Homo sapiens: one gene and its partners. The protein of the gene in region 2 interacts with the protein of the main gene of each other region in a pairwise test. Each region holds a gene or a part of one and is shown on either strand. Other genes may lie near its edges. The genes, in order: APPL1, MEOX1, PAGE3 and CIAO1.

What was found.
Region 1: the proteins of MEOX1 (region 2) and APPL1 interact in binary tests that used the Homo sapiens proteins (3 or more experiments, as listed by UniProt).
Region 3: the proteins of MEOX1 (region 2) and PAGE3 interact in binary tests that used the Homo sapiens proteins (3 or more experiments, as listed by UniProt).
Region 4: the proteins of MEOX1 (region 2) and CIAO1 interact in binary tests that used the Homo sapiens proteins (3 or more experiments, as listed by UniProt).

Annotation. Positions count from the first base shown.
Region 1 is NC_000003.12:57,222,418-57,231,003, reverse strand, and holds the start of APPL1 (DCC-interacting protein 13-alpha), read right to left. Parts: upstream 3,276-8,586; 5' UTR 3,121-3,275; coding exon 3,067-3,120; intron 291-3,066; exon of another isoform or gene 240-290; coding exon of another isoform or gene 237-239; intron 1-236. UniProt on the Homo sapiens protein: Multifunctional adapter protein that binds to various membrane receptors, nuclear factors and signaling proteins to regulate many processes, such as cell proliferation, immune response, endosomal trafficking and cell metabolism.
Region 2 is NC_000017.11:43,651,014-43,659,181, forward strand, and holds part of MEOX1 (homeobox protein MOX-1), read right to left. Parts: intron 1-8,168. UniProt on the Homo sapiens protein: Mesodermal transcription factor that plays a key role in somitogenesis and is specifically required for sclerotome development. Required for maintenance of the sclerotome polarity and formation of the cranio-cervical joints.
Region 3 is NC_000023.11:55,261,164-55,269,613, forward strand, and holds the start of PAGE3 (P antigen family member 3), read right to left. Parts: upstream 3,754-8,450; 5' UTR 3,383-3,753; intron 2,763-3,382; exon of another isoform or gene 2,749-2,762; 5' UTR 2,741-2,748; coding exon 2,657-2,740; intron 2,197-2,656; coding exon 2,088-2,196; intron 1-2,087.
Region 4 is NC_000002.12:96,268,991-96,275,607, reverse strand, and holds the end of CIAO1 (probable cytosolic iron-sulfur protein assembly protein CIAO1), read right to left. Parts: intron 6,341-6,617; coding exon 6,253-6,340; intron 4,498-6,252; coding exon 4,257-4,497; 3' UTR 1,435-4,256; downstream 1-1,434. Other genes in the region: SNRNP200 (U5 small nuclear ribonucleoprotein 200 kDa helicase), read left to right, coding at 259-351, 453-596. UniProt on the Homo sapiens protein: Key component of the cytosolic iron-sulfur protein assembly (CIA) complex, a multiprotein complex that mediates the incorporation of iron-sulfur cluster into extramitochondrial Fe/S proteins.

The DNA of each region.
Region 1 (8,586 bases), on a different chromosome or scaffold from region 2:
ATCACTTGAACCCGGGAGGTGGAGGTTGCAGTGAGCCAAGATCATGCCACTGCACTCTAGCCTAGGCGACAAGAGCGAAACTCCATCTCCAAAAAATAAAAATAAAATAAAATAAAATTAGCTGAGCTTGGTGGCGTGTGCCCAGGAGTTTGAGGTTTCAGAGCTATGGCTGTGCCACTGCAATCCAACCTACGTGACAGTGAGACTCTGTCTCAAAAAAAAAACAAAAAACTTACCATGAGCTTTAAAAGTCTTCATATTCTTTGCTGCTCTGCTTCTTGGACTCTATTCTAGATAAAATAGTTCAAACTGAGAAGAAAATTTATGCTCCAAAGCATTAATCTCAGCCCTATTTATAAAAGCAAAACTTTGGGAAAACTCTAAAAGTCCAGCAAAGGGTTGTGAAATCAGTTAAGGAAATGTGTGGTCTTCAAATGTTTTTATTTGGAATGTAAAAACATGTGAAGATACTTAAGTGATAATGTTAAGTTAAAAGCAGGATAAAGATCATTATGCACAATATAATCTCAATTCCATTAAAACATGTAGAAGAAAAAAAAAACAGTAGAATAAAGAAAGCAAACTGTTAATAAGGTTTTGCTGGGTAACCAACAGGTAATTGTGTGTTATTCTTTTCTGGACCTTCCAATTTTTCTGAAGGAAGCAACTATTATTTCTTTTTAATCAGGGTCAAAAATAAAAACATGTCATTAAGACACAACAGCTGAGGTTCAGAGAAGTTGAATGATTTGCCCTAAAGCAGAAGGTAGTAAAGTGGCAGTGATGACTAAAAACCTCGTCAACCCTAGATCCAAGGCTTTGCATTCTGCCACAGGTTCGACCTAAGAATCACCTCCAAGTATGTACACTTCCTAAATCCCAGTTGTACCAATTAATTTTCCCAAGTAAATTTTACCTAGTTCAAATTTATTGCCTTTCAACATTGAAGGGATATCAATGTGTCTACTTCATTAAAAATTAGCTGGCACAGGCCAGGCGCAGTGGCTCACACCTGTAATCCCAGCACTTTGAGAGGCCAAGGCGGGCAGATCACCTGAGGTCAGGAGTTCGAGACCAGCCTGGCCAACATGGCAAAACCCCGTCTCTACAAAAAGTACAAAAACTAGGTGGGCGTGGTGGCACACGTCTGTAATCCCAGCTACTCAGGAGGCTGAGGCATGAGAATCACTTGAACCCGGGAGGCAGAGGTTGCAGTGAGCCAAGATTGCAACATTGCACTCCAGCCTGGGCAACAAGAGCAAAACCCCGTCTCAGGAAAAAAAAAAAAAAAAAAAAAAAAAAAAGCTGGCACAGTGGCACACGCCTGTATTCCCAGCTGCTAGGGAGGCTGAGGCAGGAGGATCACTTCAGCATAGGTGTTCCAGGACACAGTGCACTACGATAGTGTCTGTGAACAGCCATTGCTCTCCAGACTGGGAAACATAGCAAGATCCCCATCTCAAAAAACAAACAAATATATTGTAAAACGGACACTAGTATGATGCATGCTTGTAAAGAAAAAAAAAAACCACAATTCTTAAGTTGTAAACTAATCTGGCAAAAACCTCAAGACATTAGATGAGTCAAGAGTTTATCTCTGCCTCACAAGTCATTTCCAGGGCAGTGTGCAATCCATTCTGAGCCGTTTATAGTCTTTATGGGCTATTAAAAAAAAAAGCCAAGTAAGAGAAGAAAGGTAAGGCAACCTGTTGAATCTTACATAATAAAAAGTAAAATGACAAAGTACACCTGACCAATTCCACAAACTTTTTGCAAATCATCTGAAACAAATACAGTTTATAACTTTATATGGAGAAATCATCAAGAAAAAAATTGAACCGAGTATACTGGCAGTCAAGATAAACCAAATGTGAGTTTCTCTTTTTGTCACTATCAGCTGTTAAGAGTACATTAGCAGCAGGCAACTGGCCTGTGAAGATAACTTTCAGAATAAAAAAGAACAAATCAATTCTACAATCAGAGCCCCATTTCAACTTGGCAATTAACATTGGCACAAAATCCATGGCAGAAGTGCCATCCAGGAAAAGGAGATCTAGACCTCTTCTGCTTTTCTTCTTTGGGGGCCATGTTCAACTGTAAAGACACACGAAATGGTGCAACTGCATTTCTAAATCAGCAACAATTCAGAAATGTTTCATTCTAAATAGTGTCCAACCAGCAACACCGTCTTAAACCGTTTAAATTATCGTGTAAAACGGCTTAGAGATGAAGTTTTCCCTATGCAAGTTACAGCCCCTGCCAACATTTTAAAAAATATAGCTGCTTTCATTCTGCAGTACTGAAAACATATTAAATGGTTACATTTTCCAAAACTGTCTTAAGCTAGAGCAACCACATCAGCATCATTCCGACGCACAGAACACAGGGCTTTTATTTTGATGAGTTTATTAAGGCCAAGTCTGCAGGGAGCAGCGCAGCAGTCGCGGAGCGGCGAAGGCACCGTCCATCCCTCGCCGTGCACAGCTCGAGTGACAGCGACCACAGTCACGGCCGCGACACGGGCACATTCGGCGGGGAGAGCGGTCTTGGGCTCCGGGACCCGTCACGGGCTTTGCCATTAGGGCTCCACACACAACCTTACAGCCTCTCCCAAAGAAAAACGATCCATTTCCTTCCTTAGCTTGCTGAGCCTCGGAAATCATTAAATAAGACTATCGGGGTTTCTCTCCCTTCTGCAATTTTTCTGAAGAGGTTCTCAGGGAGAAAATTCCAGGATCGAGATTTGGCACCTCACATCACCGCGATAAAAACGGCGCCTTTCGTCAAATAAAAAGGACCCGCGCGCGTACGTGACCGCCCGGCCCACGAGCACCAGCGGCTCGGTCTCCGCCTGCGGCCCTCGGCCCAGCCGAGCAGGCCCACGCGGGCCTTGGGCGGCGGGCCCAGCCTCCACAACTCCGGGCGCGGCCTGCGACGGGCGGTGACCTAGGGCGGCGGCGGCCCCCACCTGGGCCGGGGCGGGCACCTGCGGGAGCCGCGGAGGCGCCAGACCTGGGGTCGGCCAGCTGGGCTCTCCCTCGTCGCCCACCAGCTCCCGCGCCTCACCTGCGGGCTGTCCTCCAGCGTCTCCTCGATGGGCAGCTTGTCGATCCCCGGCATCGTGGCGGAGGGAGGGCGGTGGCAGGAGACGCAGCTGCCGCCCACAGCTCCCCGCGCCGGCCCGCCCGCCGCAGCTGACCCCGGCCCGCCCTCTCCGGCAAGGGCTGCAGCCGTCCCCGCCCGCACAGCCTTCTCCAGGCGCCGAGCGGCCGTGCGGGAAATCCCGCCCCCTCGGCCTCCCTGCCCCGCCTCCCGGCGCGTCCATTGGCTCCCGGGGACGCCCATCCGCGCTGCGGCGGTGGTCGGGAGGTTCCCGTGCGGCGCTAGGCTCTCCCGCGAGCGCGGGCGTCGGAAGCGGCGGAGGTGGCAGTGTCTGCCCTGGGATGGCCTTCCCTGCACGCGCGCGTTTGTATCTAAATCGCAGGGGACCGTCTCTTCCTCAGCTTGCCGGCGCGAGGAGCCAGAGCCTCGAGTTAGGGCCACACGGGGGAATTTGGGGCGGGTTGACTTTTCCCGCAACATATTTTGTCAGAGACCTTGGAGAAAGTCCTACTGCTGGCGCCTTTTAGTTTCCTCAGATGATAACATTCCCAACTCCGCTCGAAGCGTCCAGTCTTAATCCCCTCCAGCAGAATGGTGCTGACTAACTCAGATGTCTGAGATCCGCAGCTGTGTCAATAATAGGGCTTTCTGGCAAACTTGTGAACGTAGGCTCGAAATTGTTTTTCTGGACGCTTGAATATCAGTATATTCAGTTGAAAACATGTGATTTTGTTGCCAGTTTATCAGTTCCTACCTGGCCTCCCGAGGTCAGTCCTTCAGGACTGACGCTGCAACTCCAACTCCCATGTTTCTTTTAAATCACAAAGGAAAATATCTTTTAAAAATCAGGATACACTGATTAATTATGTTAGTAACTAATTGGCATTTGTTGAATCAAAAAGTTTTGGAAGCGTTAAATAGTTTTAGCCTCTAATTTTACAATAAAGTGAAGCTCAAAGTTGGGAATTTGACCGGATGAGGGCTACAAGCCTATCCTTTCCTCCTCCCTCTTCATCTTTCCCAACCTGTCACCCTGGCTCGTTTATGTCTCTGTATAGTTGTAGGCTTTCATCATTATACAGAGAAAATAACAAAGTAAGTAGTGTCTTCTAAACATCTAGCCATTAATTCCACCAATCCATTCCATTTTCATTCAAGAAATACCAGAGATGCTGAGTAAAGATTAATTAGCTGCCTGGTTCCACAGATACATGGGAACAAATCCAGAATAGTAGTAGCTCAAATCCAAATATAGTAACAAATAGAAGTTATATATTTTAAACGAAAATAGTAGATTTTCCCATGATCTCTTGAAAGAAAAATAAAATTATATTTTTAAAGTTTTGTTGAGTAGACTTGCATTGTAGTTTTACGGAATTATTTTTAGTGTTACAATCTTTAAAAGTTTTCCCCTTAGATTGTTTATCAGCCAGTCTCTCTCTCCCGAAGAGTTCTTTAGTTTTTGAGGAAGTTGATTTGGAGGCAGTTCTTACAATGAGTTAAGGGTTCCCAGTTGTGTTACAGTTTCTTTTTCCTTGATATCTCATTTCTACTCTGCCAACAAGAACACCATGCACCCCAGCTCTAAAGAAGGAAGACTTTCAAGGTAAGTGACCTTCCTGATTGAACTGAGTTAGATTTTAAATGAAGAAAGGTTGTGGCAACTGTTAAGAATCAGGAGTAAGTGAGGAGTGTAAACAATGTATAAGAAAGAAAAAAAAAAAGGCCTGGCGCTGTGGCTCACGCCTGTAATCCCAGCAATTTGGGAGGCCGTGGCAGCTGGATCACCTGAGGTCAGGAGTTCAAGACCAGCCTGCCCAACATGGCGAAACCCAGTCTCTACTAACAATACAAAAATTAGCCGGGCGTGGTGGCGTGCCTGTAGTCCCAGCTACTCAGGCGGCTGAGGCAGGAGACTCAGTTGAAGCCGGGAGGCCCAGGTGCAGTGAGCTGAGATCATACCACTGCGCTCCGGCCTGGGCGACAGAGCAAGACTACGTATCAAAAAAAAAAAAAAAAAGAAAAGAAAAGAAAAGTATTTGTTACCTAATTAACTTGGCCAAACCAAATAATTCCGATGAAAAATTCGATTAGTTATCTGAATTATCTGGGTGTGGTATTGTCAAGTTAAATGGTTTCCTTCTTAGTATGTTATGTACATCTAAACTGTGTTTCTGTAAAGGACTCTCAAGAGGCCATTACATTATCGCAGAATGGCAAGGAATTCTTGCCGGACTCAGCTGGTTAAAAAATAAAACAGGCTGGGCGCGGTGGGGCTCACGCCTGTAATCCCAGCACTTTGGGAGGCTGAGGCAGGCGGATCAAGAGGTCAAGAGATGGAGACCATCCTGGCCAACTGGTGAAACCCCGTCTCTACCAAAAATACAAAAATTAGCTGGGCATGGTGGCACACGCCTGTAGTTCCAGCTCTTTGGGAAGCTGAGGCAGGAGAATCGCTTGAACCCGGGAGGTGGAGGTTGCAGTGAGCCGAAACTGCACTCCAGCCTGGGCGACAGAGCGAAACTCTGTCTCAAAAACAAAAAATAAATAAAAATGAAAAAATAAAACAAACAAAAACAGGTTCACATTCAGTTGGATGGAGAGGTAGGTTTAGTCAAATCTAGTTTTAACCTATTTGTACTAGAATCCAGTTTTAACCTTCCATTTGGATTCTCTAGCTTTAGGCCACTGTATACCCTGCTCATCCAAAAATATGGTTGTATTTCCTAAGTTAAAACATCTCCAAAGCTGCAAAATTCATAGTCCTTTTTGATAACCACTTTAAGTTTATTCAGCCTACGTTTTGTGCAGTTAACCAAACTCAGTTCATTTTAAGCCAGTTTTCTTTCATACAGGAAATGAGGCTTGTTCAGAGAATGCCTTAGGGGTTACTGGCGACTCGTGTGGGTAGTAGAGTAAAAACTTTGGGCAACTGGTTAATTTTATGGAAAGCAAGTCAGGATTAAACAACATCCACTAAAGATTTCTTTGAGATGTTTCACATATATACCTTGAGACATTTCACACGTATAATTTACAACAAAAGGACGTACAGTCTTGTAAATAGAGTTGTTAATTATTAGTCTCCTAAAATTATATTTGGTCTTATAATTAGGTTTTTACATGATACTCCTTGAAGTTCTGGTCTGTGATCTGTAATAGGAAAGAATCCAATAACCCAAGTGATGCTGGTGCTTTACTTTTAAAAATTATCCCTTTAGGTCAGTGGTTTCCAAACTTAATGCACACATAAAAGTTATCTGGGAAGGTTGTTAGCATACAGATTCCTGAGCCCTGCTGGAAGATTTTGGTGTAGTAGGTCAGAGTCAGGGCTGGGAATCTCTCCAGTTAAGTCTGAAGTGGGTAATCCACAAACCACATGAGGAAAAACTCTATCCAAGATGGAGAATGATCATTTCCCTTTCCTAAATCACTTTGTATTTAAAAAAAATTTTTAAAGAGTCAGGTGGGCACAGTAGCTCATGCTTGTAATCCTAGCACTTTGGGAGGTCAAGGTGGAAGGATTGCTTAAGCTCTGGAGTTTGAGACTAGCCTGGGCAACACAGAGACACCATCTCTACAAAAAAAAATTAAATTAAATTAAAATTTTAAAAAATTGGCCTGGTGCAGTGGCTCATGCCTGTAATCCCAGCACTTCGGGAGGCCGAGGCGGGTGGATCACCTGAGGTCAAGAGTTCAAGACCAGGCTGGGCAACATAGTGAAACCCCGTCTCTGCAAAAATTAGCTGGATGTGGTGGCAGGTTCCTATTATCCCAGCTACTCGGGAGGCTGAGGCAGGAGAATCGCTTGAACTTGGGAGGCGGAGGTTGCAGTGAGCCGAAATCACACCACTGCACTCCAACCTGGGTGACAAAGCGAGACTCAGTCTAAATTAAAACAAAAATTAACAAAAAATAAAGAGTCAAGCAAACATTTAGAAAAGGAATCCTAGATTCCAGCTAAGGATGGTGAGGACATGATTTCCAGGCTAACGAGCTGGAAACCACCTACTCACAAATATTCTCTAAAAGACTCCATCAATCTAAAATTCTGGGAAATTCATACTCCTTTTAAAGAGTGTAATGTATAATGCAAAAAATTCTGGTTGTTACCTAGTAAATCACTCCTTAATAGGACTAACTTTAACAGATAATTCATTATTTTCTTAATACCAGCTGAGATAAAGCAGATTCAGGAAAGAGCAGATTTCAAGAAAATTGATAATTTGGGAACTTCAGTCATTTAATCTATTTTAAAACATTAGAGCCAGTAGCAGAGTAGGGGGAAGCTTTGGACAATTGGAGGGTAAAACAAAAAGTTCTGAGGAATGGGTTGCAAAAAGAGGTGGGAGGGCACTAAGGACCAACTGGTTGGTTCTTCATTGTGCCACTGCAAACTAGCTTCTGCCTTTGACCTTGACCTTGATGTCACTTTTACTCATTGCCACAGCATCCTTAGAATGTGGGACAATTCTGCAGCTTCAACTTTCTTGATGGTAAAAAGAAAAAAAAAAACTTCTAGGAAAATTGTATATGCTTTTGTTTATCTATGGTTGCCTTGATTCCTTTTTAGAAGAACACATTAATTAATTTGTCTGAGCAGGCCAAGAACTTTAACACAAAATAGCATCATAGCCCTTCTGTGGAGAGGTAGATGAGAACATGGTTATGAGCTAATAAGCTTGGGCTGTGATTTAAATTCTGGCTCCACTGTTTAGTAGCTCTGTGACTTAAGTAAGGTTATTTAACTTCTCTGTTTCTCCATTCTGCCATCTGAAAAATGGAGCTTAATACTAGAGAACTTACATTAATAGTATTGTTAAGATGATTAATGAGCTTTTAGAGTAGCTCCTAGCGCAATAAGCATTCAGTAAAAATTATCTTTTTCATTATCAACTATTAAATATTAAAATATTTTAATACATTTAAGGAAGCTTTTTTGTCTCTATCATATTTTTTTAAAAACTAATATTTTTTAAATCAGAAGATTGGGCTCATTACCTTAGAGAATCCTGATGCTATTTTAAATAACATTAGTTACTCTTGCTAATGTTTTATCACTTTGATTTGGGGGCTTTTGAGGCCAAAACCAAAATTTCAAAATCAATAAATATGTACTTTGAAATTCTGGAGGAAAAGTGTACCAAAACAATTACCAAAATAGCCAAGATTATTGCCATTTTGAGGTTTTTAGGAGTTTTTGTTTTGTTTTTTGTTTTGTTTTTTGTTTGGCGGGTGGTGAGTGGGTAGAGGTGCCCCAAAGTTAAAAGATTTTCATGACACTTACCCCACATGGGAATTCTGGAAGGAACAGTCAAATCATTGGGGAAAAAATTGCTCATAGGCTGGGGGCGGTGGCTCACAGCTGTAATCCCAAAATTTTGGGAGGCTGAGGTGGGAGGATCGCTTGAGCCCAGGAATTTGAGACTAACCTGTGCAACATAGTGAGACCGTGTCTCTACAAAAAATTTAAAAATTAGCCAG
Region 2 (8,168 bases):
CTGGAATGAAAATGCGTAATGCTGGCTGGGCGCGGTGGCTCACACCTGTAATCCCAGCACTTTGGGAGGCCGAGGCGGGTGGATCACGAGATCAGGAGATCGAGACCATCCTGGCTAATATGGTGAAACCCCATCTCCACTAAAAATACAAAAAAATTAGCCGGGTGTGGTGGCGGGTGCCTGTAGTCCCAGCTACTCGGGAGGCTGAGGCAGGAGAATGGCATGAAACTGGGAGGCCGAGCTTGCAGGAAGCCTAGATCGTGCCACTGCACTCCAGCCTGGGCGACAGAGTGAGACTCCGTCTCAGAAAAAAAAGTCTGGTGCTATAGTCTTTGCTGAGAGTCCCAGGCGGGGTGGGTTGGTGAGGGGGAAGCGCAGCAGCTTTCAAGAGGGGATGGGGAGAGGCATGGGTAGTTCTGGGTTTTGTTTATAAGTTCCATATGTCACCCTCAGCTGTCACCAAAGGAAGTGTGGGCTTGAGACCCAGGCCCACTGCTCACGCTGTTCCTGTACCTCTGCATGCAAGAAAAACAAGGGGGAAAAAAAAAGAAAAGAAAAGGAAGGGGGTGGGTCCTGGCCAGAGGCCAGGGAGCCAAATTGGGTGAGAAGCCCAAGTTATGGGCAGAGAGGGAGTTGGGGAAAAGGGCCAGCTCTGGAGGTCTGCAGGGGCTGTGAGTCCTGTCTCTCAGGCAGAAAGGATTCTCTGCCTCTGAGTTATCCCCCCTCCCTGGGCCCAAGTGCCCGTGATTTATTCAAGCCAGAGAAATAGGTGAGCGGGCAGGAATCCTGAGTCCCTAGCATGGGAGAGTGGCGGAGCAGAGCTGAGGTGACCCCTGGGCTGACCTTCTTACAGCTCACGGGCTCATTGGATCTTTCCCTCTTCGATGTTGGTCAGGATCCTGCTGCCTCAGCAGAAACGGACTTTCTCCAGAGTTTCCGACTATACCTGATCAGGGGCCTGAGCAGGCCCAGGCGTGGGATTTGTGCTGGAGCCTCTGAGTTCAGATGGTGGCCGAGGCCTGGGTCCTGCTTTGGGCTCTGAGCTTTCTTTGCTTGTCAGAAGAGGAGGTCAGGAGCTCTAATCAGGAGGCCGGGGATGCCCAGAGGGATACTGGCTGAGTGTGGAGTTGCTGTCTCCCCTCCCACGCTGGCCACTCTGGACCATAAAACTTCTTCCTCACTAGGGGTTCTGGACATGGACTCGGGACAAGAGGAGCTGCTGCAGCGGTGCACCCCTCAAACCACACCCCACCCAGCACTGCCACAACCCTAAGCCAGTAGCATCGTCAGAGTCAGGCAGGCCCGGCTGACAGCAGGGGGCAAAGACTTCAGCAGAGCTCAGGACACTTTGGCCTGTTTTTGAACGTGGGAAACCTGATGCAGCCAGCCAGCATCAGGGGAGGACTTTAAAGAGAGAGGGGTGCTCATATGTGGGTTTGGGAAAACTGGAGCCAGGGGTTACCAAGTGTTGGCTGTGGACTCTACATCTCTGATATCATTTAGTCTCACAGCTACCCACCTTATGAAGTAGGTACTGTTACCCTCATTTCTCAGAAGAGACTCAGGGAGGGTTAGGACTCACCCACGTCCACACAGCCAGGAAGTTGTGGATCAGGGACCTGAACCAGGGCTACCTTGTTAATTCGCTTGACCTTAGTCTCTGACCACCCTTCCTCCTATTACTGTACCGTGGCCCAGCAAGAAGGTGAGCATGGGCATGAGGTCACTTGTATGGGACTTGGCATCACTCTGGCGACCCAGGTGACACTTATTGGGGTTGTCCATTTATTTCATTCTCATCTCTACTATTGCTTTTTTTTTTTTTTTTTTTTTTTTGAGACGGAGTCTCACTCTGTCGCCCAGGCTGGAGTGCAGTGGTGTGATCTCGGCTCACTGCAAGCTGTGCCTCCCAGGTTCACGCCATTTTCCTGCCTCAGCCTCCCAAGTAGCTGGGACTACTGGCGCCTGCCACCACGCTTGGCTAATTTTTTTATATTTTTAGTAGAGATGGCATTTCACCGTGTTAGCCAGGATGGTCTCGATCTTCTGACATCGTGATTCACCAGCCTCAGCCTCCCAAAGTGCTGGGATTACAGGTGTGAGCCACCGTGCCCAGCCTACCATTGCCTTTTTTTTTTTTTTTTGAGACGGAATCTCACTCTGTCTCCCCAGCTGGAGTGCAGTGGCACGATCTTGGCTCACAGCAACCTCTACCTCCCTGGTTCAAGCGATTTTCCTGCCTCAGCCTCCTGATTAGCTGGGACTACAGGTGTGAGCCAACACGCCCAGCTAATTTTTGTATTTTTAGTAGAGACAGGGTTTCATCATGTTGGTCAGGCTGGTCTCAAACTCCTGACCTCAAGTGATCCACCCACCTTGGCCTCCCAAATAGCTGGGATTACAGGCGTGAGCCACCGCATCCAGCCCATGCCTCTTTTCTCCTTTCCTCTGTCAAACAGCTCCCTTCTTTAGAGATTCACTCCTAAAACTGCCTCCACTTTTTTTTTTTTTTTTTGAGACAGAGTCTGGCTCTGTCACCCAGGCTGGAGTGCAATGGTGTGATCCAGCTCACTGCAACCTCCACTTCCCAGGTTCAAGCGATTCTCCTGCCTCAGCCTCCTGAGTAGCTGGGACTGTAGGCGCATGCCACCACGCCCAGCTAATTTTTGTATTTTTAGTAGAAATGGGATTTCACCATTTTGGCCAGGATGGTTTTGATTTCTTGAGCTCATGATCCGCCCACCTCGGCCTCCCAAAGTGCTGGGATTACAGGCGTGAGCCACCGCACCCGGCCAACTGCCTCCACTTTTTATGTCTGTACTTGTTGGTGTAAGATAGGAAATCAGGGATCTGCTTGTGGCTAGAAACAACTTCCTGTCTCAGTGGAAAAGCTCTACCAGCCGACAGGACCCTGAGCTAGGAAAGCTCTGGGGTCAGGCACACATCTGGGTGCTGCTTTCACTAAAGGGGTTTTCAACTGAAGGGTCTGTGCCACAGTTTGAACCTTGTCCCTTGTTCCTGTCCCCGTACAGTCCTGTACAGTCCCTATAAGGGCAGAATTGTGCTTCCCTCCCCAATTCCTATGTTGAAGCCCTAACCCCAGTACCTTAGAGTGTGTCTGTATTTGGACATAGGGCCTTTAAAGAAGGGATTAAGTTAAAATGAGGCTGTTAGGGTGGGTCCCAATCCAATCTGCCTGATATGCTTATAAGAAGGGGAGATTAGGGGCTCATGCCTGTAATCCCAGCACTTTGGGAGGCCAAGGCGGGCGGATCACCTGAGGTCAGGAGTTCGAGACCAGCCTGGCCAACATGGTAAAACCCCTGTCTACTAAAAATGCAAAAATTAGCCAGGTGTGGTGGCACACGCCTGTAATCCCAGCTACTTGGGAGACTGAGGCAAGAGAATCACTTGAACCTGGGAGGCAGAGATTGCAGTGAGCCGTGATCACGCCATTGTGCTCTAGCCAGAGCAACAGCAAGACTCTTGTCTCAAAAAAAAAGAAAAAGGAAAAATTAAAAATATGGTCAGGTGTAGTGGTTCACACCTGTAATCCTAGCACTTTGGAAGGCCGAGGCAGGAGGATTGTTTGAGGCCAAGAGTTCAAGACCAATCTGGCCAACATAGCGAGACCCCTGTCTCTATATTTTATTCTAATAATAAATAATTTTTTTGGAAAATTAAAAATATAATTACTACATAATATAGCAATTTCCCTTCTAGGTATACACTCAAAAGAATTGAAAATACACTCTCCAGCCGGGTGCAGTGACTCACACCTGTAATCCCAGTGCTTTGGGAGGCTGAGGCCAGTGGATCACGAGGTCAGGAGATTGAGACCATCCTGGCTAACACAGTGAAACCCCGTCTCTACTAAAAATACAAAAAATTAGCCAGACGTGGTGGTGGGCGCCTGTAGTCCCAGCTACTCGGGAGGCTGAGGTAGGAGAATGGCATGAACCCGGGAGGCGGAGCTTGCAGTGAGCTGAGATCGCGCCACTGCACTCTAGCCTGGGTGACAGAGTGAGACTCCGTCTCAAAAAAGAAAAAGAAAAAGAAAATACACTCTCCAGGAGGTATTTGCACACTCATGTTCATTGCAGCATTATTCACAACTGCCAAGAGGTGGAAGCAACCTACATGTTCATCAACAGATGAATGGATAAAGAAATTTGGTGGCCGGGCACAGTGGCTCACGCCTGTAGTCCCAGCACTTTGGGAGGCTGAGGCAGGCAGATCACAAGGTCAAGAAATTGAGACTATCCTGGCCAACATGGTGAAACCCCGTCTCTATTAAAAATACAAAAATTAGCTGGGCGTGGTGGCGTGTGCCTGTAGTCCCAGCTACTTGGGAGGCTGAGGCAGGAGAATCACTTGAATACGGGAGGCGGAGGTTGCAGTGAGCCGAGATCGCGCCACTGCACTCCAGCCTGGCAACAGAGTGAGACTCCGTCTCAAAAAAAAAAAAAAGAAGAAAGAAATTTGGTATATCCATACAATGGAATGTTATTGTCTTCAGAAAGAAGGAGGCCAGGCATGGTGGCTCACACCTATAATTCCAGCACTTTGGGAGGCCAAGGTGGGAGGACTGCTAGAAGCCCTGAGTTCAACACCTGCCTCGGCAGCATAGCAAGACCCTGTCTTTCTAAAAAAAAAAAAAAAAAAAAAAAAAAGAAGAAAATCCTGTCACTTGCTACAACCTGGTTGAAACTTGAGGACATTATGCCAAGTGACATAAGCCAGTCACAAAAATGACAAACATTGCATGATTTCACTTATGTAAGGTATCTAAAATAGTCAAATGTTTAGCAAGAGAAAGAATGGTGATTGCTAGGGGGTGGGGGAAGGGAAAAAAGGTCGTTGTTTAATGGAGATAGAGTTTCGGTTTTGCAAGATTAAAAGTTCTAGAAATCGATTGCACAACTACTGTACTGTATCACTTAAAAACTGTTAAGACGGTAACTTTTATGTTATGTGTATTTGACCCCAATTTTTAAAAAAGGAGATTTCAAATATAAGATGTCCCAGGTAAGAAACCTCAGAAGAGTTCCTTTATGAAACAACTGCAAGCTAAAGTGAGAAAATCAACACAGATTCTAGCAGATACTAGACTTCGACATTTCTTAACTGTAGCTTTCTTTGATACTATGTTATATGCAAATGTAGCTATAAATTTTTGAAAAAGAAGAACAAAAATATTCTTGGAAGGGGTTGTTTTTGAGCTGGGTGGTTTTTAAGTAGGACTTCAACAGGCAGAAGTACGGGGAAGGGGAGAGTGCTCTAGGCAAGGAGAAACCACCAGAGCACAGTCAGAGAGGGGGAAGAAAATGCAGGATGTGTTTGCAAGGTCAGTCCCTGGGTGTGGCTTCGTGGCAGGGGTAGTGGAGGGGACCTGGGGCGGGGAGGTGGCCTGTAAAGGGGCATCAGGAGGGAAAAGAGGAGAGAGGCCTATTTGTGGAGTTTTATACCTTAGGCAAATTTGTGGTTGGGCGGAGGCAGGCATAGAGCAGGTCTTGCAAAGAGAAATTGGGGCAGGACAGCTCTGGGAACACACGTGTTGGAGCTGAAGAAGGATGAGACAAATCACGTCTGATTAAAGGCATGTCTCAGCAGAGTGAGGACGTGAGAGCAGGAGGGAGCAGTGCTGAGTTCTAGCACCATGGCTTTCCCAGGCGGGCGATCGGATTCACCTGTAGCCACTCTAATCACACGCAACCTTCCCTTGAACCCCATGAGGAAACCACCGCAAAATCCTTCATTCCCATAAATTAAAGACAACCACAGTAGCAAGGACAGTTTGGGGGAAAACAACAGTGGCCTCACAGCTGTCCCTGCCAGCAGGGGTCTTTAATCCCCATTGGCCTGGGGCTGGGAGTGGTTTGGGTAAGATAACACCATGCTGGTCTCCAGGGTGGGGAAGTGCCAAAGGCCAGGAACCCTGCTTTCTTTCTTTCTCCCCGTTTGTTCATTTTCTTTCTTTCTTTTTCTTTCTTTCTTTCTCTTTCTTTCTTTCTTTCTTTCTTTCTTTCTTTCTTTCTTTCTTTCCTTCCTTCCTTCTTTCTTTCTTTTCTTTCTTTCTTTTTCTTTCTCTCTTTTTCTCTCTGTCTCCTTCCTTCCTTCCTTTCTTCCTTTCTCTCTCTCTTTCTTTCTTTCTTTCTTTTTTTTTTTTTTTTTTGATGTAGTCCCGCTCTGTCACCCAGGCTGAATGAAGTGCAGTGGCGTGATCTCTGCTCACTGCAATCTCCACCTCCCAAGTTCAAGCTATTCTCCTGCCTCAGCTTCCCAAGTAGCTGGGATTTACAGGTGCCTGCCACCACACCTGGCTAATTTTTTTTTTTTTTTTTTGTATTTTTAGTAGAGATAGGGTTTCACCATGTTGGCCAGGTCAGTCTTGAACTCCTGGCCTCAGGTGATCCGCCTGGCTCAGCCTCCCAAAGTGCTGGGATTATAGGCATGAGCCACCGCGCCCGGCCAACCCTTGCTTTCTTGATAATTTCTTTGAGTAGATCAGCTCCAGATTCTACTGGGAGTGAGCGGGGAGCAGTTGAAGGAGATGGCAAAGGAGGAAGGAAGCGCAGAGAACATTCCTCTTACAATAAACTTTCCATTTCTGGAGGCTTCTCAGCCACTCAATATGGGGTGCATTTGCCAGGCCCAACTCACCCCATAACCTCTCCGGCAGGTCTCTGAGCTCCATGCTCCTGATGACAACTGGAACAAAATGATTGCCAGAAGTTCTCTAGACTCAGGAATTTCTGAGACAGCATAATTGAAATATTCAATTCCACCATCCCCATAAATATAGAAATATTTGTCAGACCTTATATTCTGAAGGCTGGTTCAGGAAATATGGGCCTAATACCATTTACAGCTGCTATTTATTGAACTCTTACTATGTGCCAGGCACAGAGTTAATCTCATGGATCACTGCATCTAACCTTCACAGAGAGACTCTCTATGGAAGGGGCTACTGCTATATGCCCATTTTACAGCCAGGGAAACAAAGGCTGGAAGAAGTTATGAACTTTTCCAAAGTCATGCAGCCAAAAGTTGCCGTGCTGACACTGCAGCCTGTCTGTCTGGCTGGGAAGAACTATGGAAAACGCGTTTCTGATCAATGCTGGTTAACCTTCCAGGGACCACTCAGCCTGGACTTGGGGAGGCCCAAATGCAAGGGCATGCCCAACCCCTCTGTAGTCAAGATCAATAATATTTTAAGGAAGGCCGGGCACGGTGGCGCATGCCAGCACTTTGGGAGGCCGAGGTGGGCTGATCACGAGGTCAGGAGTTTGAGACCATCCTGACCAACATGGTAAAACCCCGACTCTACTAAAAATACAAAAATTAGCCGGGAGAGGGGGCGTGCGCCTATAATCCCAGCTACTCAGGAGGCTGAGACAGGAGAATTGCTTGAACCCAAGGGGCAGAGGTTGCAGTGAATTGAAACTATGCCACTGCACTCCAGCATGGGCGTTAGAGTGAGACTCCATCTCAAAAAAAAAAAAAAAAGAATATTTTAAGGCAATATTTGTAAAAATCAAAAGTAATGCAAAAAATTGATAATGAACAAAATATCACAATTTTGGAGAGGGGATCCAATTATAGACTCAGGATTGGCAGGGTTGGGTGGGGGGCTCTCTGTGGGTTTGCCTTTTCTGAGCTGAATTCCAGATTCCTGGAGTAGGTCATGAGCCTTGCGTCACTTTCCCCCTTCTTTGGGCTCTTACAAAGCTGATCTTTCTTGCCTCCTTCCTCCCCTTCAGTTAAATTCCAAAGGAGGATGCAAGCATTGCGGCAATAAAGATTTCCATGCTGAACAGTGAGTTTGTCTGGAATCACAGGGGGATGAGTGAGAGTCAGCTCACTGGGCCCTGCCTCATCTGCTGCTGGTGCTCCTGAGGGGACCCTTAGGGAAGCCCAGGGCCCCTGCGGATGGGAACCTCCCTCCACCAAAGTCTGACCCTGAAGCATGCAGGCCGTTCAGCCGAGGGTGTCCCTGTACTCCTGGGTGGCCAGCTGCTTAGTGTGAATGGTCTCTCTGCATTGCAGGGCCATCGGCCACTCGCCAAAAAGAGAGCTGGTGCATTTGGGTTTTGCTGAGACTCGGAATGCTGGAAGATTCTGCCTGAGCCCAGCAGGCTCTTGGCTTTGCTATCCCTTCCCAATGC
Region 3 (8,450 bases), on a different chromosome or scaffold from region 2:
AGAAAGAGTGAAGAACTGGTCCAGATTAAAAAAGATTAAATAGGATTGACAACTATATGTAATGCATGATCCTGGAATCAGAAAAAAAACTATAAGGGAAATTATTAGGACAACTGGGGAAATTTGAATATAAGCTATATATTAAACAACTGCATTTTTCATTGTTGAATTCCCCAAATTTAATAAACATACAGGGGTTATCCAAGAGAATATGGCTATATAATAGAATAGTGGGTATGAAATCAATGTGGCAAAACTCTAAACATTAGTTAATCTAGGTGAAAAGCATATGAGTTGATTATAATAATCTTGCAACTTTTCTGTAAATTTTATATTTTTACAAAACATAAATTAAAAATAAAAAAGAATAAATGACAACTATGTTGGAGTTCAGGAAGACAAGAGTTATTTTTGACAACATTAACAGCAACTAGGATTGGACTTCAGACAAGACTGGGTGCATTCAGGGTGGTATGGCTGTAGATGGATTGGACTTCATGTATTTGTTTTCCTGCATTACAAAAACCTCCATTTTAAATGACATTATAAGGACAAACCACAAAACATGTGCCGTCCTTATATTTTACCATAGTGCTGTAAGGGGAATAAACATCAGCCATCCAGGAAATCAGAACTTTACACCATGGATAAGATTTAAATTACATTTAAAATATAATTTTATGAAGAATTAGCTGAATGGATTTGTAAGCGTATGACATATCTTATAGTCATGACACCCATAACCTATTGGGGTAACAAGAAACTTATTTTGTTAAAATAAAGTTACTTTTAGGTCCAAAGGTCTTATATGTTACTTTCCATAAATGAATTCCATATATAATGAAGTTGTAAAAACAACAGCAAAATTATTTGTGAATACAGCAAAATCGTTGACTTCCAGCAAGAATAATGGGAAGTGGAATGGAAAGAATTTAATGGGTATTATTGTCATCATAATTCTGGGACTCTTTCAATAGTGAATTGCTAAAATAATCTATGGCTTGAGCTATGTAAATATTTTGCTCCAAAATGCCATACCTGGAAGAACTAATTGTTTCATGATAATCGTAGGTACATAACCTTTTGATGTTTCTAGCCATAAGAGGATTTAACCACCTTTTAAAACCACTTAAAAATTATACTGAACCAGCTACCTATATGCCAATATCCTGAATTGTTCAGCTATTAACTAAACTTTCCATACACAAATTTCAATCAAAGTAAACAGTGGCTATCATTCATTGAGTCATTCTCTGGAATCACATTCTGTTCCACTGAATTGGGTCTATTCCAATGCCAGTACTGAGCTATCTCACAGTATAGACATTTTAGTATTAAACAGTTTAAGCAAAATCATTCACTTTTTCTTACAGCAATCTAGATGGTAAGAAGAATACATACTTTGGAATAATATACAAATTATTTCTCCACCAGTGAAGTGCCCTTTGGTAAGACACAATCTCTGAGTCTCAGTTTTCTTACTTATCAAGTGGGATTTATATTTCTATGCAAGCTCATTTAATCCAAGGTGTTACATATGATATATATATATATATATATATATATATATGTAATATATATATCACATACCATATATAGATTTATATCTCGATGCAAGCTAGTTTAATCCAAAGTGTGAATTAGTGTGGATATGAGATATATATACATATATATAATATATATATGTGATCTATAATATATGTATAATGCCTTAGCACTCTACGCATGCTATTAAAAGTTGCTTAAACTTTTAATATAATTACTAAGAAGGACAGACAATATTCTAAGATCAAGTTTAACTAGTGAAATAGTATACAATTTGGAGTAAAATTAAACATAGTTTCCCTGGATTTGCTAATGAAATGCTCTGGCAAGCATAACAAGTAAGTCTTGAAGGTCGAATGCATTATACTAAGGGACTGCCCTTGGCTGTAAACTATGCCTTCTTCACTTTTCCAGCCAATTTTCAGGAAATGTTTGAGATCTCTTTCTATTGCTTTTTTCCTCCTTTTACTTCCATATCATAATACATGATATATACATACACCCCCTCCATTCATAGGCATTCTTCCTCTCCCACGCTTCACCTTGGAAGTCCAGTGCTCCCTCGTCTCTCTCTTGACCAGGTGTATAATCCTGACTTTCAATTGGTGGTTCCTCTTGTTGAAGCTGGTCATTACTGGGCAGCTCCTGGGCCTAGGAATATGAGTGCGTGTGCAAATAAAAAGGTCTGTTATTAATAATGCATGTCAATAATATACATATACTCAATATACAAATATATCTTACCATAAATAAGTCTAAAGACATTTTTTTCCTACACAATTCTACATATACTTATTCTTAATAGTTACTACAAGAGAAAGTTACCCTTAAAAACTTGGGAAGCTATTTGAATCCAGGCTGGAATTGATGTATACAATGTGTTATGAATAAGCAGGAGAAGGAAGCCATAGAGAATATTTCTGGGGAATATAAAAACATAGCCATCCAGGCAACATTAGAATGCAAACATCCAAATCTATGTTTACTTCACGAGATTCAATTATTACCATTTACAAGCATGGAAAACCTTATTAATATATCAATATTAGTTCAACAACATTTTCACAAAAATAAGTTTCTAATAGAAAATATCAAATGTTAAAATACTCACAACCACAGCCCCTACTGGATGATTAGAGTCTTGATCATCTCTTCTTTCTCTAGATCTGGATCTTGTTCTTTGATGTCCACTCATGTTTCACTCTGAAAGTGGCATACTGTGATTCAGAAAATGTACATAAGAGTGTATCATTTGACCTTTTCCATGGCTAAATTGGAAAGCATGCAAGCTCACGATTACCCTGGGACTTAATTTTAAGATGTTTTCAAAAATTTTTAGGTATCATCTAATTTAGCCAAATATGGCTGCTTGCAAAGTCATTAATGTTATGGCTATGGTAGCAGGCAAGGCTCATGGCAAGATAGAGGACTTCTCTGTGAGTTTTGGTTTCACAATTAGACTCTCCATCATGAAGATATCTAGGAAAATATAGGTAGAGAATTGGAACCGGAGTGACTACTGCTTTTGCCCCACTCTCATTTACTCAGCCCATTTACCCCCTAAAATCAAGTTTTATTGGAACGCACAGCCTCTCCCATTCCTGCCCGAGATGTCAGTGGCGGAGGTGTGAAGTTGCAAAGCCGAGTGAAGGGCATGCTCCTCACTCTCTGCCACCGTGGAGCGCTCTACAGACCTCGGGGCAGCGGTTATCAGCCCGCAGTGTTCCTAGTTTCCAGGCCCCTTCCTTACTGCCCACCTCGCCCTGCCACTGCCCGGTTAAGAACTGGGGAATCTGTCCTCCCTCTCAGGGTTCCAGGCCTTTCGGCACTCAGATACCTCCAACAGCACGCCCAGCACTCGCCCCATCTTCACGTGATTCCTCCCCTCTACGGTCCACCTTCCTCCGTCGTCCTGGCCCAGAAACGACGACAAAGGCCCATGGGGCGTCGCGACCTGGGAGGAGCCGGACGTCGACGGCGAGGCCCTTTTCTCTCAGAAGCCACGGACTGTGGTTTCTGTGCCGCAGGACCTGTCCAAAGCCCGCTGGCTCCCCTTCACATTCACTCACAACTAAATTCCCAGGAGGACTGATCTGCGGACCTACCAGCTGAGTCCCAGTCAGTGAGAAAGAATGAAGAGGACAGGAGGACCACCTCTCAGGGCAGAGCTCTGAGCGCAGACAGCAGACAGCAGACAGCAGACAGCAAGGCACATGCGCAATAATGGACATGCCCAGCAACGGACATGCATAGGGATGCAGCTTGTGTTACGTAGGCTGAGGTTTTCTTGCCTCTGTTGACTAGGAGCCACAAGGTTTCTTGAGTATTGAAAGGGGCTTGCACAGCTCTTTTACTTTTCCTTCCTAAACTTTTTGACATCTAAAGTAAGGGTCCCTGAGGCTCGAGGTCAAATTAACTATCATGCCCAATACAACTCTCACACTTCCCTCATAAATAGAGGGAAGAGGGATCATAAATACATGACATTTAACTGCACCCCAGGCCCAGCCCAAGGACAGCCTTACACAGGATGGCAAGTGAACAAGAGGGCACCTGTACCTGTTGATCCTTTTTCCTGAGGTCTAGTTTGTATTAACTAACTCTTGCCTTTTGAAAAACAAACACTGTTATCTGAAGTTTAATGTGAACCTTTAAAGATGCATTGTTTTTAGACAAAAAGGACATATTTGATATGGGCCACTAGGGTTACCACAAAATACATAGTTGTTGATGAAATGTAATTTGCATCTTTAATGTAATGAGCAACGAACAGCATTTTAAAGAAACACAATAAAATAAAATAGAAATCATCAGAACTGCATTTAGGATATACACATAGCCTACACACACACACGTACAAACATACATGTTTACACACATATATTTATGTTCAGTCCACATCTCCTGCCCTCAAGCTGGGATTTACACCATCTGCTTCCCTAGTTCTCAGGCCTTCGGATCTGAATTGAAGTACATCACTGGTTTCTGGTCTCCTGCTAGCTTGTAAATGGCAGACTGTGGGACCCAGTCTTCATAATTGTGTGAATCAATTTTTCACACAATGTTATATATATATATAATACACACACACACACACACACACACACACACAGATAAGGAAAAGGGCCAGGATATCAGCCCTACTCACTTCTCTTCAGCACTGTCCTGGTGAATCTAGTTAGTGCAATGAGACAAGAAATGAAATAAAAGGCATCCAGATTGAAAAGGAAGAAGTAAAACTGTATGACTCATAGATAACATAATCTTTCGTGTAGAAAATCTGATAGAATCTATAAAACAGTTACTAGAAACAAGTGAGTTGCAGAATTAAAAATCGATATACAAAATTTAATTGTATTTTTGTGCATCAGCAATACAAACTTGGATTGGCATTTTTAATAGTATGCATTATAGTATCGAAGAATATTAACTGCTAAGGGATGAATCTGAATAAGGAAATTCAAGACCTATAACATATTGAAAAGTACAAAAGATGGCTGAGTGAAAATTTCAGACCCAAATAAAATTAAGAGATATATCTTGTTCATGAATCAAAAGAGTCAATATGCTTAAGATACAGTTTCCCCAAATTGAGCTATAGATTCAAAGCAATTCCAATCAAAATCCCAGAGGGTGTTCTTTTTGGAGAAATTGATAAACTGATCTTCTAAAGTAAAGAGAAAGTTTTTAGGCAGAATCAGACAAGTGCAGAAACATATATACATGAGTACAACCACTAATCAGACAAGTGCAGCTGCTCTGTCTATGGTGTAGCCATTATTTTATTCCTTTACTTTCTTAGTAAACTTGCTTTCACTTTGCACTGCGGACTCGCCCTGAAATTCTTTCTTGTGTGAGATCCAAGAACCCTCTCTTGGGACATGGGGTCGGGTCCCCTTTCCTGGGACATATTTCTGGCCACCACAGAAGGGACTATAGTGAAGAAACCCTGACCCAATGGCTACCTTTGGGTAAGTGTTGGGGTCCTGTAACATCTCTCTGGTGACCACCGAAGTGATTATACTGCGGAAACCCCCAACCCAAAGGCTAACTTTGGGTAAGTGGTGGGGTCCGGTAACATCTTTCTCGTGAACCACAAAAAGGACAATACTGAAGAAACCTCCCCAATCCAAAGGAAATAGACTGCAGCACTGATTGGATGACTTTGGGTAAGTGGCAGGGGAGCAGGCTAAAGGATGGGATTGGGTTAGAGGCCCAACTTAGGGGAGTTATAGTCTCTCCTAAGACAGAGTGGATTAGAGGCCCCTCTTAATAAAAGGCAAGGACACTTGACTGACCTTGGGTTACAGGCCCAACTTAGGAGGGTTAGAGTCCCTTCTAAGATTTAGGGAGTTAGAGGCCCCTCTTGGTAAAGTCCCTCTCAGCTAAGAACAGGTTCGGCACTATAGGATGTTAACTGCTATTCTCTTTGGATTAATCTGCCTTGCACTCTTTGCTGATGGCTGTAGATGACAGGATTAGGCATGTGCAGGATTAAGGGACATGGGGAGCTTTTTCCTCCTCCAAAAGGGGAAACTTGAGAGCTGATGGGACTGCTTGAAAAAGATCCCTGCCTGACTGACAGTAGCCGCCTGAACTTTTCAATGTCGCTGCAATGGGTGGGTCTTTCTCTGGCCTCCCTGATCATTTTGCCTTCCCCACCCTACCACAGGCAATACTTTCCTTCTCTACTTTTCCTTTCCCTTTCCCTTTCTTATTATTTATTTATTTATTTGACGGAGTCTCACTCTGTCGCTAGGCTGGAGTGCAGTGGCATGATCTTGGCTCATTGCAACCTCTGCCTCCCGGGTTCAAGTGATTCTTCTGCCTCAGCCTCCCTAGTAGCTGGGACTACAGGTGCGTGCCACCATGCCCAGCTAAGTTTTTTTTTTTTTTTTTTAGTAGAGACGGGGCTTTCACCATGTTGGCCAGGATGGTCTCCATCTCTTGACCTTGTGATCTGCCCACCTCGGCCTCCCAAAGTGCTGGGATTACTGGCATGAGCCACTGCACCCGGCCCCCTTTCTTATCTTTTCTATTATTCAGGGTGACCATCTTGCCCAGAGACCACGTGTTGAAACTCCAAGTCAGAGGTTGGATTAAAGATGATGGAGCCCATCTGGGGGCAAATTTAAGCCTTGCCAGTTTGATATTGGGTGCTAAGCAGAGTGGCTAATGTCTATGTTCTATCACATGTAGTTTGCTCCAGCCAGAATGAAAAAAAATAATTTTCCTTTATGATGCAGCTTGGCCCCCAGGGCGATGGTGCCACAAGCCGGATCACTAGGGCCGCTCAGGGAAAGGGAACCCAGAAGCCTGGCATGCCGACAAAAGGGTAAGAATTTCTTACCAGTCAGATTTCTGGCTTCTCTTTCTCTGTGTAAATGGTTGAATGAATTAAAGAAACAAGCTAGTGTTTATCTCCTCTGTAAAGTTTTGATTAATGTGAAAAAGAATTCTAAGACTAGTCTTAAGCTGGTGTGTTTTGTGCTATGAATTCGTTTTTCTGTGTCGAGGGATACTTCAGGATAAAACATGGGCTTAGAACACCTGTAAACCTGTTTTTCAAGATGATCCAGAAAGCTGGTCAGTAACTACCTTGGCTGCGGGTCCCTGAAACAAACAAACAAAAAACCCAGATTAAGTATTCACGTTGTTTTATGTCCTTGGGAGCTTGACCTTTTAACCACGTGGCCATACTTTTGTTTGGTCTCCACATTCAGGGACCAGGAATTTTAGGTTCATGTCATAGTTAGCTCTAAAAACCATATTGAATAGTTAAAAGCCTTTGCAAGCTCAAAATTAACTGCTCTAGACTCCTTCTGGGAAAGAAGCTGAAGACTACTGTGAGCTGTAGCTCACTAGCTAAGGTATGGGACTTTCGCAGTGGTGGTCCGAGTTCGTATTCCTCACCTAGGAAGTAAGTCGTTTCTGGTTTAATGTTGTGTAAGTTTGTCAATTATGTTCTCCTCCATGGACTGTCTTAAATTTTCCTTTCTCTAAGCACCTGGGAGAAATTCAAAAACCAGAAATATTGGCGGTTTGGCATAAGAAATACTAAAAGGACTTTATCAAAACGTGCTAAAAGCAGATGTTCAAGCTCTAACAGCCAAGACTCCTTGGGAAAAACAGGAGGCACCAGAGACCCCTTTCCTGGCCCTGTTCTTCCAAGGGCTACACGCTAAAGCCAGTAATCCAATTAAGAAACTTAAAAACTGGCAAATGAAAAACCTTACAACTACTGTAGTAATCGTCTTCTGTCTTTCTGTGTAGCTATATAAGTGTTGTGTGTAATGTTTATATAAAAGAGCTCTAACTAATTGACTTAAACAAAAATAAGCACTTAAATAAAATATTTTAAAAGCAAAATAGAAAGTGTAATGCCACGGGGAGGAACCAAGATGGCCGAATAGGAACAGCTCCAGTCTACAGCTCCCAGCGTGAGCGACACAGAAGACAGGTGATTTCTGCATTTCCAACTGAGGTACCGGGTTCATCTCACTGGGGAGTGTCGGACAGTGGGTGCAGGACAGTGGGTGCAGTGCACTGAGCGTGAGCTGAAGCAGGGTGAGGCATTGCCTCACCCGGAAAGTACAAGGGGTCAGGTAATTCCCTTTCCTAGTCAAAGAAAGGGGAGACAGACAGCACCTGGAAAATCGGGTCACTTCCACCCTAATACTGCACTTTTCCAATAGTCTTAGCAAATGGCACACCAGGAGATTATATCCCGTGCATGGCTTGGAGGGTCCTACCCCCACGGAGCCTCGCTCATTGCTAGCACAGCAATCTGAGATCAAACTGCAAGGTGGCAGTGAGGCTGGGGGAGGGGCACCAGCCATTGCCAAGGCTTGAGTAGGTAAATAAAGCTGCCGGGAAGCTCGAACTGGGTGGAGCCCACAGGACCT
Region 4 (6,617 bases), on a different chromosome or scaffold from region 2:
GCAGGTACTAAGTGGGAGAAGGTACCTTGGCACAAGGAAATGAGCCAGAACCAACAAATGAATTCATCTACTTAAAAAATTAAGTCTGTTTGAGACAACTTTTGATAGTATTAAAATGTTAAATCTAATTGTATTTCGGGAAGAAACTTTGGAAAGCTATCTGATTTTTGTTCTCTCTTTTGTAACTGTACCATTTTCATGGTTGCCTATGGTCATCAAGTTTTACATGCTGAAATTCTTGGTTTTGGATCACTGCAGAAACGTGAAGAGGGCTGGTGGGTGGTGATTGGAGATGCCAAGTCCAATAGCCTCATCTCCATCAAGAGGCTGACCTTGCAGCAGAAGGCCAAGGTGAGTGTGTCCACTGGCCCTAGCATTTGTTCTGGCATGGGGGAAGGGTGAGAATGCTTCCTGTGTCCATGCTCATCTTGATTTCTGCCTGCTCTTTCTAGGTGAAGTTGGACTTTGTGGCCCCAGCCACTGGTGCCCACAACTACACTCTGTACTTCATGAGTGACGCTTACATGGGATGTGACCAGGAGTACAAATTCAGCGTGGATGTGAAAGAAGCTGAGACAGACAGTGATTCAGATTGAGTCCTGAGGCATTTACTTTTGGGTAAAGGAGAGTTGAGCCTGAATTAGGAATGTGTACATTGTAGGAATCCTGGTTGTGGGGACCAGGTCTGTGGGCCTCAGGTCTGGCCAGCCAGGGCTGGTGCTGTCCCCGCCTACCTCCACTTCCTTTCCCTTGCTCACTCTGGATCCAGTGACAGCAGGTGTCATGGGTCAAGCATAAATCATATATAGCATTTTCAGGCATGTTCCTGGTAGTTCTTTTGAGTCTGACATTCTAATAAAATAATTTGTAGAAACCATTTGTCTTTGTAGTGATTCCAAATTAAAAGTTTTCTTTCTCCAACCTGAGGGCACGGCCAAAAAGATCTGGTTATTTTTTAGCCAGGAACGTGCTTGTTAATGAGTATGTCTGGAGGACAGACCTGCTCATTAGGTGTGCTGTCCCCTGTAGCCTCGTGAGTCAGCCCAGAGGAGGGTACATGCGACTGTGGCCTGGCCTCAGTGGTACCCACACATCAGCACTACCACAAGAACCAACACTGAGCCTCGGAAGCTAGATCACAGGTTAGGGGTTTCTCTAGATGGGGGTTCTGAAATTTGCAGTGTCTGCTCCTGGGAGGCAGCACCAGAAAGGGCACTGAAATGTACTAGCTGGATGTGACCCAGTCTTAATAAACAGGTTTTCTAATCCAGATCTTCCGACTGTCTTCAAATTCTTACCTTCTGTTCTTTAGATTAAATGCACACAAAATTGAAAGATGATTCTGAAGGGCAGTTTCCTCAGGGTAGCAGTTTTCAAATGATTTGGTCTTAGGACCTCTTTACACTACTAAAAACTAAGAAACTCAGGTTTTTGTTTTTTTTTTTTTCTTTTTAAATAACAAATTTATTTTTCACAGTTCTGGAGGTTGCCCCAAAAAGCTTTTATTATCTAGATTAAGGTTAATGCACTTTTAAATCATAATGTTAACATTTTTTTTCTTAATAGAGACAGAGTTTAGCCATGTTGCCCAGGCTGACCTTGAATTCCTGAGCTCAAGTGATCCGCCCACCTCAGCCTCCCAGAGTGCTGGGATTACAGGCATGAGCCACCATGCCCAGCCCACGTTAACATTTTTTATGAAGAATAACTTCCAAAACAATCCAAGGAGAAGGGTGGCATTTTACAGTCTCTTTAGTATCTTGTTATAATAAACAGTTGAATTCTTACAGCTGCTTCTACATCCAAACTTTTTTGTTGAAGTAAGTTGACTTCACACAGATACGCAGTTGGAAAAGTTTTTAAAATAGCCTTTTCAGCTAATTGTGGCTATTCTTTGATACCACACCAAGACTACAAGTGATTTTTTTTTTTTTTTTTTTTTTTTGAAATGGAGTCTCGCTCTGTCACCCAGGCTGGAGTCCAGTGGCACGATCTCGACTCACTGCAACCTCCACCTCCCGGGTTCAAGCTATTCTCCTGCCTCAGCCTCCCGAGTAGCTGGGACTACAAGGGATCTGCCACCACGCCCGGCTAATTTTTGTAATTTTAGTAGAGACGGACTTTCACCATATTGGCCAGGCTGGTCTTGAACTCCTGACCTTGTGATCCACCCACCTTGGCCTCCCAAAGTGTTGGGATTACAGGCGTGAGCCACCGCGCCCGGCTTACTACAAGTCATAGTTTCTTAAAGGCAATGTAGACTCCGAAAACTTAATGCACTCTTATATTGTTAATACATTAAAATCCACTGGCCTGTCTTACACTTTTGAATCAATCTTTGAGCCATGCATGATTTTGTAACATCACGTACTGGTCACTTGGAAAAATGGTTCATTGAATTCTTCCAAATGAAATGCATTTCATTATACAAATCACATTTGTTAATATCCCCAACAATAAAGCTCATGGTGGAGTACAGATTTTCGGAAATTCCAATTTTTGCTTGAAAGCTTTATCACTGGCAACACTATCAGTTGTTTCCCTTGAGGTGAGAGGCTCATTCCATTAATTTCCAGAAAATATCAGCCAAATATTCAAGTCTAAATACCGTAATCTGCTAGTTCTTTCAATTCTAAAGGGCATGCCTTGAACACAGCCAATTCAGCTTGCAACTCAACTGTGTAACTGCTTTTCCTCAAGGCACCCATACTTCAGTGCACAGCAGAGGGGCTTTATGCATGCTTCCAGTTTTCTCAGAATATTATAAATTCTCAAGGTCAACTTTTTTTTTCTTTTTGAGACAGGGTTTCACTCTTGTTGCCTGGGCTGGAGTGCAATGGTATGATCTCGGCTCACTGCAACCTCCACCTACCGGATTCAAGCGATTCTCTTGCCTCAGCCTCCCGAGTAGCTGGAATTACAGGCATGCACCACCATGCCCAGCTAATTTTGTATTTTTAGAAGAGACGGGGTTTCTCCATGTTGGTCAGGCTGGCCTCGAACTCCCGACCTCAGGTGATCCGCCCGCCTCAGCCTCCCAAAGTGCTGGGATTACAGGCATGAGCCACTGCGCTGGCTAGGTCAACATTTAATAGTTAACCATTGCTATTTGTTCTATCAAGGACATATCAAAACTACTAGAAGTTTGCTGCCACCACCTTGATTCATGCCACAGTGCCAACAGTTGACCTCACAGATCCTCCCTGAAAGGGTCTTGGGACTCCCAGGATCTGCAGGCCGCATTCTTCGAGAACCACTATTCTAGGTACAGCCCCACTGTCCTTCTAAAATCTAAGGTCACAGCTTAAACTTCAGGGAAGGCTGTAGTTTTGGAGGCCATTGTCACATTAGAACCCATTTAGAAGTGACTGTCAAGAGACAACTTGAGTGAGTCTGAAACTGCCTGCTGATGGCAGTGTTTCTCAACTGGTTTAAATCGCCAGTCCCCTAGGAAGCCTTCTTCCTGATCACTCCCTGCCATGAAAATGGAATATCACAGACACACTATATGTGCTGTGGGCCTTAGGAGGGCCACAAACAACTGCTTGTGATTTTTTTTTATCCTTACTGAAGAACCAATTTGCATCCCTGTTGAGAATACAGGGCTTGTGGCCAGTAATAACTCTCCCTTTTAGGATTCCTGTCTTTCCCCATTTTTTTTCTATCCCCAGTTGCCATCACAGCGTAACGGTGCAGGGAGGTATATGAGGGTTGCTAAGGGAAAGCAGAGGTGCCCCTCACTCAAACCTACATTCAGAAAAAAATTTCCTTCATTATTGATTGGATGTCTTAAATGCAAAGACTTACACAGAAACTGGGAAGGGAGGACCTATTTCAGACAAGGATTCACCATGGAATTTTTATGAATATCCTTATAAAATAGGACTTGGGATGCAGATGGATTATTTCTTTAAGTCTTGCAACTTCAGAAAAGCCTGAGACACATACCCCCTCCTACTATATATAGTGATTATAAATAGTATATTTACCTCCAAAAAATTTAACACTGTGCCCTAATGCAAGAAAAATCTGTGGTATAACAATGTACTCATGTTCTGTAGCTCTTTACTGAAGGCCTCATGTCAAAGGCGGGGAAGGAAAGCAATTCTGTGGCTCTGCACTTCTACCCAAGTCTGAAGAGAAGTGAGCCAAGTTAAATGAAGGTCAAGGATGCTCCTCCTGGTCCTCTCAGGGGCTGGTAAAGTCTTATATGACGTTTTCTGGGGAGTCATTACTCTGTCCAAAGTCGAGGTAGCTCAGAGGCCTTCAGGCCGCTGATACTTCCAGAAGGCCACCTCCCCATCATCACTGCAGGAGGCCAGTAGCCCTGGCTCCTTGGGGTTCCAGGCCACACAGTTGACATCCTGGGAATGGGCCTGATGCAAGTGGGCTGTCAGGGAGAAGGTGGGCTGCTGTGGATCCGAGTTGGGATCCTCCTGAAACACGCGGATCGCGTCATCCCCACAAGCTGTGGCCAGAGCCCCTGTCAGCTGACACCTGGAAGGAAAGTGACATCAGTGGGTATACCTGACTAATTAGGCCAGAGAGACCTGTTCCATAGTTCCTGGCCTGTTCTCTTCCCTAACTTCAGGCCTCAGCTAAAAACCTCTTATTAAAATGTTTCCTTAACTAATAAGGAGTCACAAATATCACCCACTTATATCTTCAGATGCTGCAATCTAGTTCTTTCCCCTACTATGATTATCCTAAAAAACGACATGCAATTATGAACTGCACTTTCCTCACTTGGCATAAGCAGTTTCCCATGTCATAAAGTTGTTTTTTTTTTTTTTTTTTTGAGATGGAGTCTTGCTGTGTCGCCCAGGCTGGAGTGCAGTGGCACAATCTTGGCTGACTGCAACCTCCCCCTCCCAGGTTCAAGCGATTCTCCTGCCTCAGCCTCCTGAGTAGCTGGGACTACAGGCATGTGCCACCATGCCCGGCTAATTTTTGTATTTTCAGTAGAGACAGGGTTTTATCACATTGGACAGGCTGGTCTCAAACTCCAGACCTCAAGTGATCCACCTGCCTCAGCCTCCCAAAGTGCTGGGATTACAGGCCATGAGCCACTGGGCCCAGCCATCATAAAGTTTTTTTTTTTTTTCTTTAGATGGAGTCTTGCTCCATCACCAGGCTGGAGTGCAGTGGCGCAATCTCGGCTCACTGCAACCTCCGCCTCCCGGGTTCAAGCGATTCTCCTGCCTCAGCCTCTGAGTAGCTGGGATTGGGTGCGTGCCAACACGCCCAGCTAATTTTTGTATTTTTAGTAGAGACGGGGTTTCACCATGTTGGTCAGGCTGGTCTTGAACTCCTGACCTCATGATTCACTCACCTTGGCCTCCCAAAGTGTTGGGATTACAGGCGTGAGCCACAGCGCCTGGCCCCATCATAAAGTATTCTTAACCCCTTTCTTTAAACAGTGATACAACAAGCTGAGTTCTACCATAATTTACTTAAGTTCACTTTTGTTGAATAGGTGATTCCCAAATGTTTGCTAATATAAAGCAAGCTTAAGTGCTCAGTTTTTTTCACTGTTTTGGATTTCCTAGGGATCAATTCTCAGGGCCAGAACTACCCTCTAACCTACTCTCCTATATGAATGGTGCAGCTTTTCCAGCTTCCACAAGGCCAGAGTCAGTGTTACCTATAAAAACCCCAGCCACTGCCAGGTGCGGTGGCTCATGCCTGTAATCCCAGCACTTTGGGAGGCCAAGGTGGGCGGATCATGAGGTCAGGAGATCGAGACCATCCTGGCTAACGCGGTGAAACCCCGTCTCTACTAAAAATAAAAAATTAGCCAGGCATGGTGGCGGGCGCCTGTAATCCCAGCTACTTGGGAGGCTGAGGCAGGAGAATGGTGTGAACCCGGGAGACGGAGCTTGCAGTGAGATGAGATCACGCCACCGCACTCCAGCCTGGGCTGCAGAGTGAGACTCTGTCTCAAAAAACAAAAAAACAAAAAAAAACCCTCAGCCACGAATGCAGATTCAATAATAACTTCTGGACAGCACGAGCTGTGCGAACCTCTAGCGCTGGTGCTACCCTCACAGCCTGGGACTGTTCTCTGCTCCTGTGAATGCCAGCCCAGCCAGCTGTAAACCAGCATGGTAGAGTCAGGCCTGATAAGGAATGGGGGTGGCTGCCCTCAATTCCCAAGCACTCCCCCAGGGTTGCAGAGGACTGCATAGGGTATGCCTTCTCTAAAATCCCTGATTTATGGGGATGGGATGGGGTGGGGGGATGGAGTCTTACCAAGCAATGTCATAAATGGTCCTTGAGTGGAAGCCGGACAAAGTACAGATACATTTCCAACTGGGGTCAGAGCCGCTGCATGCCACCCCTGCAAGACAGACTTCTCTTGCCCTTAAACGTTCCTATGTCCTGGGCACCTCAAAGGAGAACCTAACTTACCTTCCCTCACCCTCATCTTCAACTGATTATGAGTCTGTGTCTCCGTTCGTGTCCCCATCCCTGCTTATCTGCCTTACACACTATAGCCAGACTGGCGTTTCTCAAGCAGAATTCCGAGGAAACATCCCTGTTCTGTTGCAGACTGTATGTAACTACTTTGCGTGCCTGTGAAGGCCACCCACCAGCCGACCCAACCCACTTTATTC